Linked DNA regions of Homo sapiens: regions 1 and 3 are each reported to be linked to region 2. The links are microRNA targets in miRTarBase. Many come from high-throughput screens and were not tested one by one. Region 2 holds a microRNA gene; each other region holds the end of a gene's coding sequence.

The links. Region 2 holds the annotated microRNA hsa-miR-4257 (CCAGAGGUGGGGACUGAG, at 2,427-2,444, shown strand). A microRNA usually pairs through its seed, bases 2 to 8, with sites in the 3' UTR of a target mRNA and lowers its output. Matches are read on the target gene's strand: a 7mer-m8 pairs with bases 2 to 8, a 7mer-A1 pairs with bases 2 to 7 and ends in A, and an 8mer does both.
Region 1: the mRNA of TMOD2 is a reported target of hsa-miR-4257. The part of its 3' UTR that is shown has no 7-base or 8-base seed match.
Region 3: the mRNA of EBF4 is a reported target of hsa-miR-4257. Seed matches in the 3' UTR shown: 7mer-A1 at 1,179-1,185.

The regions. Positions count from the first base shown.
Region 1 is chr15:51,808,194-51,811,442 of GRCh38, forward strand. TMOD2 (tropomodulin 2) reads left to right here. Exons shown (of 10, transcript NM_014548.4): 10 at 227-3,249. The coding sequence ends at 261. Among named protein-coding and RNA genes, the nearest start is that of TMOD3, 20 kb to the right of the region's middle.
Region 2 is chr1:150,549,561-150,552,807 of GRCh38, forward strand. It overlaps MIR4257 (microRNA 4257), which reads left to right and starts at 2,369; the gene lies at 2,369-2,454. It overlaps ADAMTSL4 (ADAMTS like 4), which reads left to right. Exons shown (of 19, transcript NM_019032.6): 2 at 262-335; 3 at 2,645-2,748; 4 at 2,983-3,040. The coding sequence starts at 2,729. LOC124904417 reads left to right here and starts at 730. Exons shown (of 1, transcript XM_047438226.1): 1 at 730-1,790. The coding sequence starts at 730. The coding sequence ends at 1,500. The region is part of intron 5 of ADAMTSL4-AS2 (ADAMTSL4 antisense RNA 2); the gene reads right to left. RefSeq lists enhancers at 1,054-1,743, 2,233-3,102.
Region 3 is chr20:2,758,386-2,761,634 of GRCh38, forward strand. It overlaps EBF4 (EBF family member 4), which reads left to right. Exons shown (of 17, transcript NM_001395167.1): 16 at 524-599; 17 at 883-1,723. The coding sequence ends at 594. Among named protein-coding and RNA genes, the nearest start is that of CPXM1, 41 kb to the right of the region's middle. RefSeq lists an enhancer at 949-1,599.

The DNA.
Region 1 (3,249 bases), not on the chromosome of region 2:
ACACTCGAGTACCCAACTATCAGACATATATGTATTTAAATGTAAATTCCACCAGACACTGGATGAATTTATCATTTCCATTGATTGTCATGGTTAAGTATTAAAATTTAAGATAACTGTATCCTCAAGTGTGTGAGATTGTCATCTTATGTGATTAATGTTGTTTATCTGGAATTTAAGGAATATCCCTTCAATTTGTCTTTTTGTTCCTTTCTTTCTTACCTAGTTCGTAAGAAGAGAGTTGAAGCAGACCGAAGGTAAACTTCCTTGAGGAGAAGTGAAGTTTCACTGTGGTATGGCCATTGAAAAACAAAAACTCTTCTTCTTCCCCATCAGGACCATTTTATCAAAGTTCGTTCATTTCCGTTAACCACATAACTAATAATTTAATTGTTATTCTTTTTTAGCACTACTTATTTATCTTGGATTTTGTAATATATGCAATTGTTTTATTTGCTCATGGGCACTTCTGGCAACTTGACAAATGGACCGATGCAGATTTTAGAGAGTGACGACATGGAAAATGAATTTAACCACTTTCTTATTGGGTTGTCTTGCTTTCTTACATGAACTTGTTTTTTTAATCACTGAAAGGAATTTAGTGTATAATATGTGTTTGTAACTGTGATTATGATAGAGGCCTATCTCTGTTTACATGCATAGCTTTGAGTTAGGCTAAATACATCAGAAGTGTTCTACTGACCACATAAGAAGTTAGTATTGCCAATCTTTCACTGCATGTGAAAATGTGACCAATTTAGCACAAATTCTCTCTTAGTTCCAGAAAAATCAGTAAATGCACATGCCCTGTTGATTGGAGATCAGTAGTGTCATCTTCATAAAGCAAGACAACATTATGACACTTTAAAACAGTAGCAAAGAAGTCTATTTATTAACCCACAAATGTAGCATCAAGCCAGACTCACAGGTAGCAAAATGAATTACACACCTACTTTTACTGACTATTCAACATAAATTGAATCTTTAACATGACTTTAAAGGCTATTTACAAAGCTGTTTTAAAGTTTTTCAAACATGATAGAAATTTTCTAAATTTTAGTAAGAGAGAAGCTTTTAAAACAGTACATTCCTGAATAAAACAACAATATTGTATCTTAATCAAGGCTGTCTGATGCAGATGATTGCATTTTTTGGCAAATTTTAGAAGCATTTATTGCTTTGTCTTTAGTGTAACAAGATCACTGGATTAAATATAAACATTCAGGTTAATTATCTAGATTTTTGTCCACAGTATATGATCCATCCAGACATTTGCAAACGTCAGGAGAAAAATGTGAATTATTTATCCAGATGCATGTCATCTCAAGGACAAAGCCTGTGAAAGTACAAGTGAGATGGTTGCATTGTAGTATGCATTAATCTTTCAATGTAGTGGTGTAAAAATGCAGTGCTAAACTAATGAAGCAGGTGACTGCAGCCTTTGGCTCAAGCTCACAACTCTGATAACTGTCAGTGCCTGAGGTTGTGATTGGTGACATTCTGACACTGCCCAAGGCAACTCACCCTCTATTCCTCCTTTCTCCCCTCCCTTTCTTCCAATTCATTGTCTTTTTTTTCCTCTTTTCTCTGTAATTTGTTACTAAACAAATTCCAGAATTTGTTTAGTAGCTGAGTGTTCCTGAGTTGCCTAGTAGCAATAAAACAAGTGAATAGGAAAATAATTAATATATTATTCTATTTAGCTTGTAAAACACATGGAATCTGTTTAAGATAGCCCTTGTAAAATTGAACATTTACCTGTATTGTAAGTACCCACATCTGTGTCTCTGAAGTCCTTTGAAACATCTCATTATCTTGAAATTTTTTTAATGTTTGAGAACACCATAAGCAGAATATTCTAACACCTTTGGCCCCTGAAAATCCTTTAATTAGTTTATGGCTTCATCTCCTTATCTATTTAAAAAACATAGTAAATAATGTTTATGGTTTTCAGTCTGATTTTTCCTTCCCTTTCACCCATTTAGGTGTGATGTGTTGGAGTCAACTTGTACAGGCTTGCCAACTGTTATATTTTCAAGAATTTTGCAAACTGGTTGTTCAATACAGCCATTATTTAAAATTAAATGATGTGCACTTACAACTGAATGAATTATATTAAGGACAGAAGTAACAAATACTGTACTCAAAAATCTTACATTTTACTATTTTCTAACCTCTTAGATTATTTACATCTAGTAGGTATGTATGTAGAAATATTACCAAACAGTATGCTACTGAACGTATCCTCTCAACTCCATGTTCACTACCTTCTTGTTACTACAGTGGCTTGAAATTGGCCATGGTAGAAATATTTACACCACAGAAATTAGCAATATGTAAGAAATTGGGGTTTTCTCCCTCTCCAGATTGCTGGTTGATAAACATTCATCAGCACACCACTGGGTGAAATTATACATTTTTTTATACATATGTTTCGCTTATCATGTTGCCGAAGGGAAGAACATTTCTCTTAGATGTCTTTTCTCCTCTTTGGATTTGTTACAAACCTGTTTAAGTGCTGAGTCCCTGACCTGCCTCTCCAAGTAAGCCTTTTTCCTTTTTTTTTTTTTTTTTCTTACTCTCATTCTTGCCTTGACTCTTAAAATCCTGGACCCTATAGAGCATTCCTTGCAGCCCCACAGTGCTGTGGGCTGGGGGCTAAAGCAGTTCTTGGCAAACTCTGGCAGAAAGCAAGAAAAAAAGAATCAGAATTCAATCATGGCTGTTTCTTTTGTACAAGCAGTTGTTGATAGTATTAAAGCAAGATAATGGGACATTATCAAAAATATAGCACTGTTTTTACCTTATGAAATAGTTGGGTTGCATGCAACAGAGTCTATGAAATCAAATGTTTTTTACTAATCAGTTTGTTTTCTTATTACCTGTGTTTTTAAAGTGGCTTGAAAGGTGGCATTTCCATGAGTGTGCACATATTGATGATAACCCTTAGAAAAACATACACTTGAGGAGCCTATCCATCATTTAATTAGCCTAGGACTTCATCTCCCTCTCTGCCCAAAGTGTGGAAGTGGTAGCTCTTTCATGATCATGGGCACAGTTAATCCTTTGCTATCCATTGTGATGGGGCATAATGTATATAAAATATTTTTCTATGTATTTGTTCTGCCAGATACTGTGTTGAGATATTTGGCAATATCTGGATAACTGACTGAAGGGAGATAACTTCTCCCCAGGCCTATCTCCCTCCCCCTTTTAGAGTTGTGCAGGTCCACTTTAAGTGTAAAATCA
Region 2 (3,247 bases):
CGCCCCGCGCGCCCGCGTCGTCCCCTCTCCCTGCGCTGTGCGGTCGCGACCCCGCCACGACCCCGGACCCAGCTCCGGTGGCCTCGGACAATCTTCCAGCCCCTGGGGTCGAATTCCTGGGGAGGGAGTCTGATCCCGTGGAACTCTGGCCCCATCACCCGGGCGGGGAGTGAACCAAAATTCCTCCTAAGTCACATAGTAAAGTTGGAAAACAGACCCATGACCTCCCCGCGCGGCCGGTGCCTCCTGCCCTCTCTCTAGGAGGGTGCTCTCGGACGGTGTGTCCCCCACTGCACTCCTGAACTTGGAGGACAGGGTCGCCGCGAGGGACGCAGGTGGGTGCCCTTGATCCAGCTCAGCCCGATGGCAGAAGAGGTTGACAAAAAAGAAAGACACCTGTTGGGGTGGCCTGCCAGACCCAGGAGTGGAGGGCTCTGAGGGCCCGGGAATTCGGACTCAGGACAGGGATTCTCCATGGCTAGGCCCAGAAACACAGGGTCCAACCACTCTCCAGCAGGGAGACCTGGGGGTGAAGGGGTGAGCCCTGCGCAGGTCTCTGTTCCTTGGTCTTCACTGGGCAGTGTGGAGAGGTGTGGCCAGGAGGAGCCCGCGTTTGTCCAGACCAGGGTCTACTCTGGCACCAGAGTGACCACCTCTGACCTCTCCTTTCCTCGTCCTGGGCCGGGAACGACACCAAATGAGGGACATGGAAAGGGGTGAGAAGCATAAATGTGCGTGTGTTTCTGCAGAGGAGGGGGCATGGGCCCCTGCCGGGCTGCGCAGGGGAGGGTGGGGTGGGACTTTTCCAGAGAGGGAGCCAGGCCTGGCCCGGGCCCCGGGAGCTCACGTCACCCCCACCCCTCACTTCTCCAGGGAACTGCCAAAGCCAAACCCAGCTCGGGATGGGATTATGTGTACTGGGTAGACCCGTGGAGAGGGGCTGCGAGAAGAGATCTCGGTGGCAGAGAGAAGCAGAGGCAGAGAGGGCATGAAGAGGGGTCGGCATCAGAGAAGGGGCAGGCAGTGACTATCACCCCATTTCTTCTTCCCTCAGCTGGAGTAACAAGAGTCAGGCAGAGCCTGAAGACTTGGGTGGAACATGGGCCCTTCTCTGGAGATCCTGGCCTCCCCCGTTCAGTCAGGGTGGAGTTGCTGACCTTAGTGGCCGGCCCAGCCAGGGGAAGGAGTGGCCATCGGCAACCCCCACCCCAACCCCAATCCCTGAGGCGCCCGCTCTGGCTCAGCCACTCTGACCCCTCCCTCAAATTCCGAACCCTAGGTCTCAGGGAGGGCAGTGGGGCTGAGTGTCTGCCCCCAGGCACATTCCTACCCTTCTCTTGGTCATTTTCTGCCCCAGAGCTGGCCCACCTCAGCAATGCGAGGGCTCCCTGGATTCCTCTCCCGGGTGCCTTTCAGATCCAACAGAAACAGATTTTTTTTTTCCTGGAAAGCAGAACTAAGAGTGGGATGAGGAGCAGGGGTGGGAAGGACTCAAAGTGAGAAGAAGGGGGCAAAGAGAGTCAGGCTTGGTGGCTGGGGTGGCTTCCAAGCCTCACTTCTCCAGTGTTCAAAGCTGAACTTCAGATGGACTTCCCGGCTCTTCAGAATGAGAGGCCTGTGGCTGGGGCATGAGGCAGCCCCGGCTGCACCTCTCCTTCCCGCTTCCCCAGCTGGTAGAGACGCACAGGAAACAAGCCCTCACTGAACCAACTCCAGATGCTGGCACCCAGAGTGGGTGTTACATTGCCGGCTTCTTCTCTAGAGATTAAACCGTCAACCCATTTAGCTTATCCCTTGGCCAAAAAGTGTATGAGATGTGCCTGGATGTTCCCTAAAGAGCTTATCTAAGAAGGGAAGAGAAAGCCGGGAGGCAAGTAGGACAGAGAGATGACTGGGGAAGGTCTTGTGTCTGGAAGACCCAAGGAAGGGGCTTCTGGTGGGTCCTCAGAGAGAGTGTCTGGCGCATCCTCAGTGGAGCCTTCCTCCTCTACTTTCTAGGCACCTCTGGGAGGGCAGGAGTGGGAGCAGATGACAACCATTTTAGAAGGAGCCCTCTGGCTGGGTGCGGTGGCTCACACCTGTCATCCCAGCACTTTGGGAGGCCAAGGCAGGAGAAGCGCTTGAGGCCTGGAGTTCAAGACCAGCCTGTGCAATTTAGCTGGATCCCATCTCCACCAAAAAATACCAAAATTAGCTGGGTGTGGTGGTGCACGCATGTAGTCCCACCTACTCAGGAGGCTGAGGAAGGAGAGCCTGTGAGTTTGAGGCTGCAATGAGCTTTGGTGGCACCACTGCCCTCCAGCCTGGATGACAGAGTGAGATCTCCATCTCAAAAAAAAAAAAAAAGCCTTTTGTGTGTGCCTGAGCCGGCTTAGAAACAGTCCCTAGGTAGGATTTGGGGAGGAGCTAAGAAGCCCCTACAGGGCCCAGAGGTGGGGACTGAGCCTTAGTTGGAGGGCTGAGGTCAGCCCCTGACCATGTAGCCTCTACAGATGGACAAGGCAGTGATCCTCCCTGCTCCCACCCTGAGGATCCTAAAGGGATGGACCAGTTTCACCCCCTCCTCCATATTCTCTGAGCTGTCCTCCCAGCCCCAAGCTCTCTGGACACTGGAGAGGTAACCACCAGGCTTCTGTCCCTGCAGAGAGCACCCTCCACGCCCAGATGCCTGCGTAGTTTTTGTGACCAGTCCGCTCCTGCCTCCCCCTGGGGCAGTAGAGGGGGAGCGATGGAGAACTGGACTGGCAGGTGAGAGAAGGGGCCACGGGTTGGGGGGGAGGAAAAGGGGAGGTGCTGGGATGGCTCTGTGTCTGGAAGTGAGGGAAAGGGGACCACTGGGAGGGGCAGGGGAAGTGATGAGTAACTTCTGCTTTCTGAGAAGTTGGTAGTCAGGATATGGGAGCCGGCTGGGGGCGGAGGGCAGTGTTGCAACACCCCCTCTGGCTCCAGTCTGACGTCCCTCCCCTGGCCTTTGGTTTGCAGGCCCTGGCTGTATCTGCTGCTGCTTCTGTCCCTCCCTCAGCTCTGCTTGGATCAGGAGGTGAGTTCTGGACAAGTGAGCAGCTGCAGCCTGCCTGCCACCCTTTCATCTCCCCCTAGGCTCCCACCCCATCTCTCCAGGCCACGCCTCCATTCCCCACAGCCCACCCACCTCCCCTGCCAACTCCCCAGTTCCTTGCCTCATAACACCAAGAGGCCGAGGTGTAGTTCTCCCTCTGCTGCTGAATGTGACCTTGGACTGGTAGCG
Region 3 (3,249 bases), not on the chromosome of region 2:
TTTTTCTTAGGTGTGTCTGGAGCTTAGAATGTGAAGGATGGAGAGAACAGAGGGTCACCAATTTCTCCTGCCAGCAAAGAGAACCATGGGAGGGGGTCAGGTAGGGGTGGGGAGTGGTGGAGTGACAAACTTCGTAGGTGTGGGAGGCACAGAGGATGCTGTTGTGGGTATGTCAGTCAGTATTCCTGGAGGCTGGCCTCTTTCCTTTTCTGCCCTGGTACATGGCCATGCGCTTGAGGAAGCAGATGGGCCCTCTGAAGGAGGCCACCCTGGGAGAAGGAGCCTGGGGTCGTCTCTCTCTTGAGGGAGGTAGGGAGCAAGGGCGTGGGCTGCATCCCCTGAGCATCTGAGAGGCACCCCTCACCCCGATCTGCAGTGCTGCCATGGGCCAGGGCTAGGGATGGCTGACTGCCTTCAGAAAGTGCTATATCCCCTGCCTGCTGTCTCCAGCCCAGAGAGTGACAGGCAGGTGGCTTCCCAGGTGGCACATGGCTTATGGCTCCTTTTTCCTTGACTACTGCAGACCAGTCTTTTGAGGATTCTGACAAGTTTCACTCTCCAGCCCGGGGGCTTCAGGGCCTGGCATACTCCTAATTACGGTAGGTCTCTGGCTGGGTCTGGCCTCCCCCGCCCCACCTGGCCCTGAGATGTGCTTGCTCTCTAAAGGCCTTCATCCTGTGCTCAAGCCTCCCCGCTAGCAGCCCCACAGGGATGGGGAGCTGGGGTCCAAGTCTTCCTCCCCGGGGCCCATCTAGACAGCTTTCTGAGGTACTTGGCCCACCCCAGTAACCCAAGCTGACCAGGTAGAGAGAAGTGGCTTCCTGTCCCCTGGCAGCCAGCCTTCCTCCCCGACCTTCTTCTCTCCCTCTCTCGCCCCACCAGGTCTGCAGCTGTTCCCATGGAGCCCGGACTGGAGGTCCCTCTGGGATTCACAGCCACACCCCGGATGGTGGCACAGACAGATGCAGGGCCAGGGCCATGGGCGGACCTCAACCCGTGAGCTGAACGGGGAGAGGCCTTCACCCCATGCTCAAGCCTCCCCGCTAGCAGCCCCACAGGCTTCTCTCGCCTCCCTGTCTTGGGGTAGTCAGAAGCCCCAGCACTGTGCAGATGCTCTTGGCAGGACAGCATCGCAGGGAGGTGCTGGGATTCTGGGCCTCACTGTCTGGGTCTTGGTTCCTCTGAAAGAGATGGATCTTGTGCAGACCAGGGTTGTTGAGTGAGGGGAGCGTGGGATGGGGACCGTGGGAAAGAGGACAGCTCAGGGAGAAGTGACCTGGAAAGGTCCTGTTTGCATCTGACCCATCTCAACTGGCCCAGCATCCCAACTTCTCTGCAGCGAAAGGGTGGCGCCCCGCAGCCTCGGGAGGCCTGCCCAGGCTCCCGTGGAGCTTCCAACAGCTGCTTGGCCCCGCAGCTGCCCCCACTTCCTTTGAGACCTGCACTCTCATGCTTGCCGCATCATGCCTCCCTGTGGGGGCTTTGGGCATGGAGGAGGCAGAAGAGGGGGTGCCAGGCCTCCTGTATTTGGGGTCTTCCCCCAGTGGATGTCTCATGGACTCTGGCCCCACACACTCACAATGACTCTGGCTGGCCCCACGCAGCGGGCCCAGCCGCCCCCCAGGTGGCCTCACATTCTGCTCTGCTAAGTTTGGAGAAAACAGAACAATAAACCAGATGCAGGTGGTGCCCGCCCGGCCTCTCACCTGCCTCCTTGGTGTGAGTTTGCTTTTCTTAGCAGTTCAGCAGCTCTAGGGGAGGCTCCAAACCCTGCCCCCGGGGAGCCCTCTTGCGCCTCGGGCTTTTTAAGCAGCCCCAGAGTTCGACTAAAGCAAGTATTCCCTGCCCCACGTCTGTTCTTGGGGACTGTTGGGGGAGGGGGAGCAGGCTAGCAGGCCTGAGCTCTGCCTGGGAGCATAATAGGGCCACTGAGGACTCAGCTGCCCAGCTCTCCAGTCAAGATCAAAGTGGTGGTTGTCAGGACATTGCTGAGAACCAGGACAGACCAAACCAAATATGACCCAGATGTCCAGAGGCTCAGAAATTAGATCCAATCCAACACAGAGGCTGCAGGGCCACGCCTGGGCTGGGTGGGGCAGCTTGTGGCTCCCAGGGCTGTTTATCTGAGCTGCACCCCAATCCCATCCCACGGCCCCCACCCCCAGGCCTAGGCACCTTACGGCTCACCTGCCTCAGAGTTTGGGTGGAAGGAGGGTAAGGAGGCAAGATTCCTATGCCCATTCGCTCCACCACCCACCCCTCTAGGATGAGTCCCAGTTGTCCCCCTGAGATATGTCCCCTGGATGATGGTCTGGCTGTCTGACCCTGAAAGCCACTTTTTTGACCCATGATCCGGTGAGCCCCGTGTCTAGCCCCAGGCCTCAGGCTTTCCTCTTTCTCTTCCTGGCCCTGCTCCTGGGCTCTGGCCTCTGGACACCCTGGCCCTTTCAACCCATGCGTCCATGACCTGCAAATGCAGCCTTCTGGACAGGCACACTTGCCAGGGCACATGGGCTGGTCCTGTCTTTCAGAGGCCTCTACTTCTTTCTCTGGTGTTCTTGGCTAGCACCTGGGATTCATCTCTCCTGGACACAGGGCAAGAGGTCATGCTGCCTTCTGGTCATCCTGTCCCATTCTCAGTGCTTGCGTGGCCTCCCACTCAGAGCACCAAAGCCTGCCTGCCCACGCCCTGCTTTATTTGGCTCTGAGCAGCTCCCATTGCCCAGGGCCCTCCCAGCTGAGGCCCTGCAAAGTTCTAATCTGCACTGGACACAGGTGATAACTGGATAGTGGTCACACTCTGGTTCCCAGGATGGGTCAGGTGCCATGGTGGATATAAATGAGACATGATGTCTGTCCCTAACAATCCCACAATGCTGCTCAAGCCACCATTTGAGTCCACACTGTCCTTTTCCTTCATCCACAGCAGACATAGCTAACCAGTTACCATGTTTGCAATGGCCTGGATTGTGCCTCCCTAAAATCCATATGTTGAAGCATTAACCTCCCATGTGACTGTATTGAGGATGGAGCCTTTAAGGAGGTGATTAAGGTTGGACGAGGTCATCAGAGTAGAGTCTTGATCCAATAGAAGTTGTGCTCTTATAAGAAGAGGAAGAGACACCAGAGTGCACTCTCTCTGTCAGGTAAGGACACAGAGAAGGCAGCCGTCTGCAAACCAGGAAGAGAGCCCTCACCAGGAATCAAATCAACTGGCACCTTGGCCTGTGACTTGCGGCCTCTAGGACT